Linked DNA regions of Homo sapiens: region 1 is linked to region 2. Evidence: fine-mapped expression QTL. Tissue or cell type: whole blood. Region 2 holds a variant in brackets; the other region holds the start of a gene. All regions are shown on one strand. Distances are from middle to middle.

Region 1 (2,685 bases), 200 kb after region 2:
TAGAAGGAGGAGGGAAAAAAGGTTTCCCAGCATGTGTGTTGTGCCAGTCTTGGAAATTCATCCGTGCTTGAATTCCACCCTCCATCCCCAGAAAAACTGGAGTAAAACAAAAAGAGGAGATGGACAAAGTGTGTATTTGATGGCATCCCCTGGGAAGAGACTCTAAATTTATCCCATAGGTCTTACTGGGCCACTGTGAGCGCTTTGGTGGAGAACAAACAAAAATTCTGGGTGCTCAGTTGTCTAACCTGAAAAATGGGACTAGCGGAAAAAGCCAATGTGTTCCATGCACCTTTTGCTTTCTTTATTAAGGCATGATGTCACCTGTACAGTAACTGCCCTGTGTGTACTTCAGGGGGGGATTTCAAGGTTAGATAGACAGGAAATTGTTTTGAAAATGTAAACACATTATTAAATGTGAAGTATTATCTGATTCCTTGTTCGAATGGCATTTCCTTCTCAGCACCACCTTCCTTGCATATTCACTTAACCTTGTACAAGAACACCTTTTTGCCCTAAATGAAGACACCCCCCCAAAAAAAAGAGTCCCAGAAAATATGTCCCTGCTTGTGCGGGGAATAAATAGAATATTCTGAGGTGCATTCCTCCTTCCTATGTTAGGCAACATTCCTTGACCCTCCTCGGCCCCCAAGCCAGGTTGCGTTTTTTTCTGCCATTTAGAAGGGTTTTCCTTTTTGTCCTAGTAAAACATCAGCCCCTGTAGCTCTTCATCTCCCCCTGGTGTTCTTCTCCCGCCATGTCTTAAGATTGGTGGCACCGACCAATCTTAAGATTTAAGTTCTGTGTGAAAAACACCTTTGCTTTTCAATCAGTTTATCAGCCTCCTCCGCAGGGGAAGTGTGGACACACAAAAGAACTTATCGGGGCTTCTCATCAGTGATAGGGAAAAGACTGGGCATGTGCCTAAACGAGCTCTGATGTTATTTTTAAGCTCCCTTTCTTGCCAATCCCTCACGGATCTTTCTCCGATAGATGCAAAGAACTTCAGCAAAAAAGACCCGCAGGAAGGGGCTTGAAGAGAAAAGTACGTTGATCTGCCAAAATAGTCTGACCCCCAGTAGTGGGGCAGTGACGAGGGAGAGCATTCCCTTGTTTGACTGAGACTAGAATCGGAGAGACATAAAAGGAAAATGAAGCGAGCAACAATTAAAAAAAATTCCCCGCACACAACAATACAATCTATTTAAACTGTGGCTCATACTTTTCATACCAATGGTATGACTTTTTTTCTGGAGTCCCCTCTTCTGATTCTTGAACTCCGGGGCTGGCAGCTTGCAAAGGGGAAGCGGACTCCAGCACTGCACGGGCAGGTTTAGCAAAGGTCTCTAATGGGTATTTTCTTTTTCTTAGCCCTGCCCCCGAATTGTCAGACGGCGGGCGTCTGCCTCTGAAGTTAGCAGTGATTTCCTTTCGGGCCTGGCCTTATCTCCGGCTGCACGTTGCCTGTTGGTGACTAATAACACAATAACATTGTCTGGGGCTGGAATAAAGTCGGAGCTGTTTACCCCCACTCTAATAGGGGTTCAATATAAAAAGCCGGCAGAGAGCTGTCCAAGTCAGACGCGCCTCTGCATCTGCGCCAGGCGAACGGGTCCTGCGCCTCCTGCAGTCCCAGCTCTCCACCGCCGCGTGCGCCTGCAGACGCTCCGCTCGCTGCCTTCTCTCCTGGCAGGCGCTGCCTTTTCTCCCCGTTAAAAGGGCACTTGGGCTGAAGGATCGCTTTGAGATCTGAGGAACCCGCAGCGCTTTGAGGGACCTGAAGCTGTTTTTCTTCGTTTTCCTTTGGGTTCAGTTTGAACGGGAGGTTTTTGATCCCTTTTTTTCAGAATGGATTATTTGCTCATGATTTTCTCTCTGCTGTTTGTGGCTTGCCAAGGAGCTCCAGAAACAGGTAGGCACGCTCGTTGACTTGTAAGTCTCGGAATTACAAGTTAGTGTGTTCTTATCCACCTTCATGCTTTTCTTGCTTCTATTTTTCCCCGTTCTTTTTATGACTGCAGCTTAGAGAGCAAGTGTCTGAGAATTATTGCTGAAAGCTACTTTAAGTCTTCTAGTGTAAAATGTAAAATTCCTCTATTGAATACAATTAGGTGCAATTGACTATAACATGACATTAAAATAACTTATCGTTTTATTATTATTATTCCATTATGTGTTTCCTTGGCTTTTAAAAAATGAGAAGAGTATGGACATATACAATTTAGTCAAATGTATGTTTGTAATATATGTGTTTATACAGGTACACAGGCCATATAGGAACTTAAATCTTATTTAAACACTATTTTAATAGTGTGTTAACGTGTAAAATATTTAAGCATTCCAGCTTGAAGCCAAGGAATTGTATCCAGTCGTTCAAGCAATGTATGTTCAGTAAAATCACCTGCAGAGCAAAAGTCTGTTGACTAACTACCGCCTCCCCCCCCCCCCGCCACCACCCCCCGCAGGCGGTTTCTGGGTGAAGCAGATGTTTTCTTTAAAATTTGTCATCATTGACTTTAGGTTTCTTTTGGCAGGTTTTTGGCACCCAAAACAGTGTGAGCTCTCTTTTCAGCTTTATTCACCTGTGCTGGGAGGGGAGCTAGGATAATTCTTGGCTGCCGAAGGATTTAGGCAGTGCGTGTGCATCTGCCCGGGTCCCCCCCGTTTTTAGGGTCAGTGCACTTT
Region 2 (2,685 bases):
CACACTAAATATAAACAGGAATTGTAATAAAACTTGCCCAAAGCAAAAGCTTTTATAATGGCTGTTACAAGCTAATTGGAGATTGTTTACCTATTGACGTGGAGCTATAGGTAGAAGCATTTGAGGAGGTACTTATTATATTTATTGTAGTAGCTGTCCTAAATCAGTAGTCTAAATTTATATACTGTTATTATCAAGATAAAAAGGTAACTTAGTTGAAAATTTTAAAAGCAGAGACTAGTATTTTGTAAGCAGATATAAACAAGTTATTTTTGTAAGAGTTTTGTTATGTTGAAGTGCAAACAGAAAGTGGCCAAACTTCAATTACTTAACAACAGCTATTCTGTAAGTATTTGTTAATCATGAGTTCTTGTTGCTTTAAGCCACAACTGATTCTATTAAGAAAAGTTGTTTTGATTATATAATGCAAAATTATGTGCACATAAACTATTAAGCACAGTTGTTACTACTGTGAATATATAATACATATATATTATTTATGATTCTTAAGTTTGGGTGAATTACTGGCATAGAAATAATAGTGCTTTGGTAATAAAAGTCCTTTTACATGTTTTTCAAGTACTATATGTTATGTGATTTGTTTATTATTTATAGTTTGAAAATCTGCAGGTAATTCATGTATTTCGTTTTTTAAAAGTGGGTCTTAGCCTTTTGTTACTTACACTGTGTTAATACGGATTTCATGCAAGCATTCCATATTTTTCTGTCTGAAGCAAAACTACCACTGAGCACAGGATCCAGTTTCTGCATTTAATGTGTGTTTTTTTCCAGGACTATTTCAACTTCACTCATCGTTTCATGAGCAGTAACTAAAGTTTATAAATAAGAAAAATTGTCTTATTCCAAAGATTGCCTGTACTACTCTCAAATTATATTCTGGATCTGATAATTCGCAGGAAGCAAATAAGACATTGCTGTGGGCGATACATTTATCAGGATGAAAATTTAGTTATTTTTGACTATTGTTGAGATGTAATGTCCTATATTTCAAACTAGCTTGCTTCCTTTGTTCTGTTCTCCCACTTTGCCTTGGCAAGTTGGATCAATATGCAATTGAAAGACGTTTGATCTGTAAATAGAAGGTTCTCTGAATTTCTTGGCCTTTCTGGCAAGATAGGGAGAGAGGCAGGTAGATCAGAGTTTGAAGGGCCCATGGTGTGCGGTGTCTGCCTTTTATTTATTTGGAGTAGGATACCATATTGGAGGTTACATCTTCCATGGCCAGTGAGCAGCGGTAGGGTCAGCATTGGAGACAACTTCTGAGCTGATGCGTTTATTTAAATTGTACTTACACATTTGGGATATGTAGAATGTTATATAATTATCAATATTGTCTTCAGTTCAGTACAAAATAGTACCCTGGGAATTTGTTCCTTTTGCCATTTTAATAAGTACCTAGAC[C/G]AGTGTGTTAAATTTGGAATCGATTACTGCCCATGTCATGAAGTATGTATATCCTTATAAAGTTTAAATTAATTATTATTGAAATAGAGCATGCACATATTTACAAAATCCAGTTGTGCCCAGAGCCCCAGGTCAAAGAACAGCAGGAGCAAGGCACTGCTCCCAATTCTCTTAGTTATTGCTCCTGGGTTACATCTGTCTGACAAAACTGTGCACATGTGTAGCAGTTCTGCAGTGAGTTGTGTATAGTACCTCTTGAATGCAGTACTCTGTCCTCATACTTCATAGATGCTGTCAGCTCTATGCTGCCAGCAAGGGATATAGACACTTTCTGCCATGCCATATTTCAGCTCATCCTCGTCTCTGTTTTTCCATCCTTTTCTGTCTTCTGTCTTAAGTCTTAGCTTTGCTTAATCTGGTTGTTTCTAAGCTAGTAAGCATTTGTTATATCTCTAAAATCCCTATTAGGTACTTTGTATGTAAAGATAGTATTATTTTTAGATACTTTGATTAGATGACTAGACTTTTAAAGCTGTAGTTCAGTATCTAAAGTGTACTAATTATTTGCATTATGGAAACATTTATTAATTGGAAATAGTCCTTGTGACTAAGAAATGATTAAAATTATGAATTTAAAAGGGAATATATCCTTCAACAGTTTATACACATCTGTATCATAATTTATTCAACACATTTTTTACTAGGTATCTGACACTGTTTAAAAGTAGTATGTTTGCTTTACTGTACTCTTATTTGTTTAAGGTAAATTAATTTATAAATTTTTCTCTGTTTTTCTTAGACAAAATTGAAGAAGCACAAAAAGAACTTAATGGGGCAGAAGTTTCAAAAAAAGGTAAATTAAAATCAGCTTGAATGTAAACTTTATTCTTGCAATGATGCCTATACATATACCTCATAAATGTAGCCTTATGAAATAAATCAGTATAGACATATCACAAAATTAGAAATCCCCTTGAACTTATTGATACTTAAAATGTTGTGGACTTTGCTTCATGAAACATTTTAGCCACATAGCACATTCTATAACTGTTTCCCACATATTAATGTATGACTGGTAGAAGTGTGAAAGGTTATTGCAGCTCTTTTGAAAGTCCTGTTTGTGAGACTGTCCTGTAGCAATAAAAGTACCAATATAAGGAACACAGTTGGCCGTGTCCATGCATGTGTGTTCATGTGTGCATTCATGTGATGCAGTTTTCTTTTTTTTTTTGTAGCGACAAAAACCTAAGGCAACTAAAACAG

What was found. PIP is the estimated chance that this variant, and not a neighbour inherited with it, causes the effect.
Region 1: EDN1 starts here. The variant in region 2 is fine-mapped to the expression of EDN1 in whole blood (TOPMed, PIP above 0.99).

What each region holds. Positions count from the first base shown.
Region 1 is chr6:12,288,782-12,291,466 of GRCh38, forward strand. EDN1 (endothelin 1) reads left to right here and starts at 1,580. Exons shown (of 5, transcript NM_001955.5): 1 at 1,580-1,912. The coding sequence starts at 1,849. RefSeq lists enhancers at 1-189, 1,333-1,432, 1,443-1,512.
Region 2 is chr6:12,086,963-12,089,647 of GRCh38, forward strand. It overlaps HIVEP1 (HIVEP zinc finger 1), which reads left to right. Exons shown (of 9, transcript NM_002114.4): 3 at 2,222-2,275. Among named protein-coding and RNA genes, the nearest start is that of HIVEP1, 76 kb to the left of the region's middle. The variant C/G (reference allele first, on the strand shown) is at 1,423.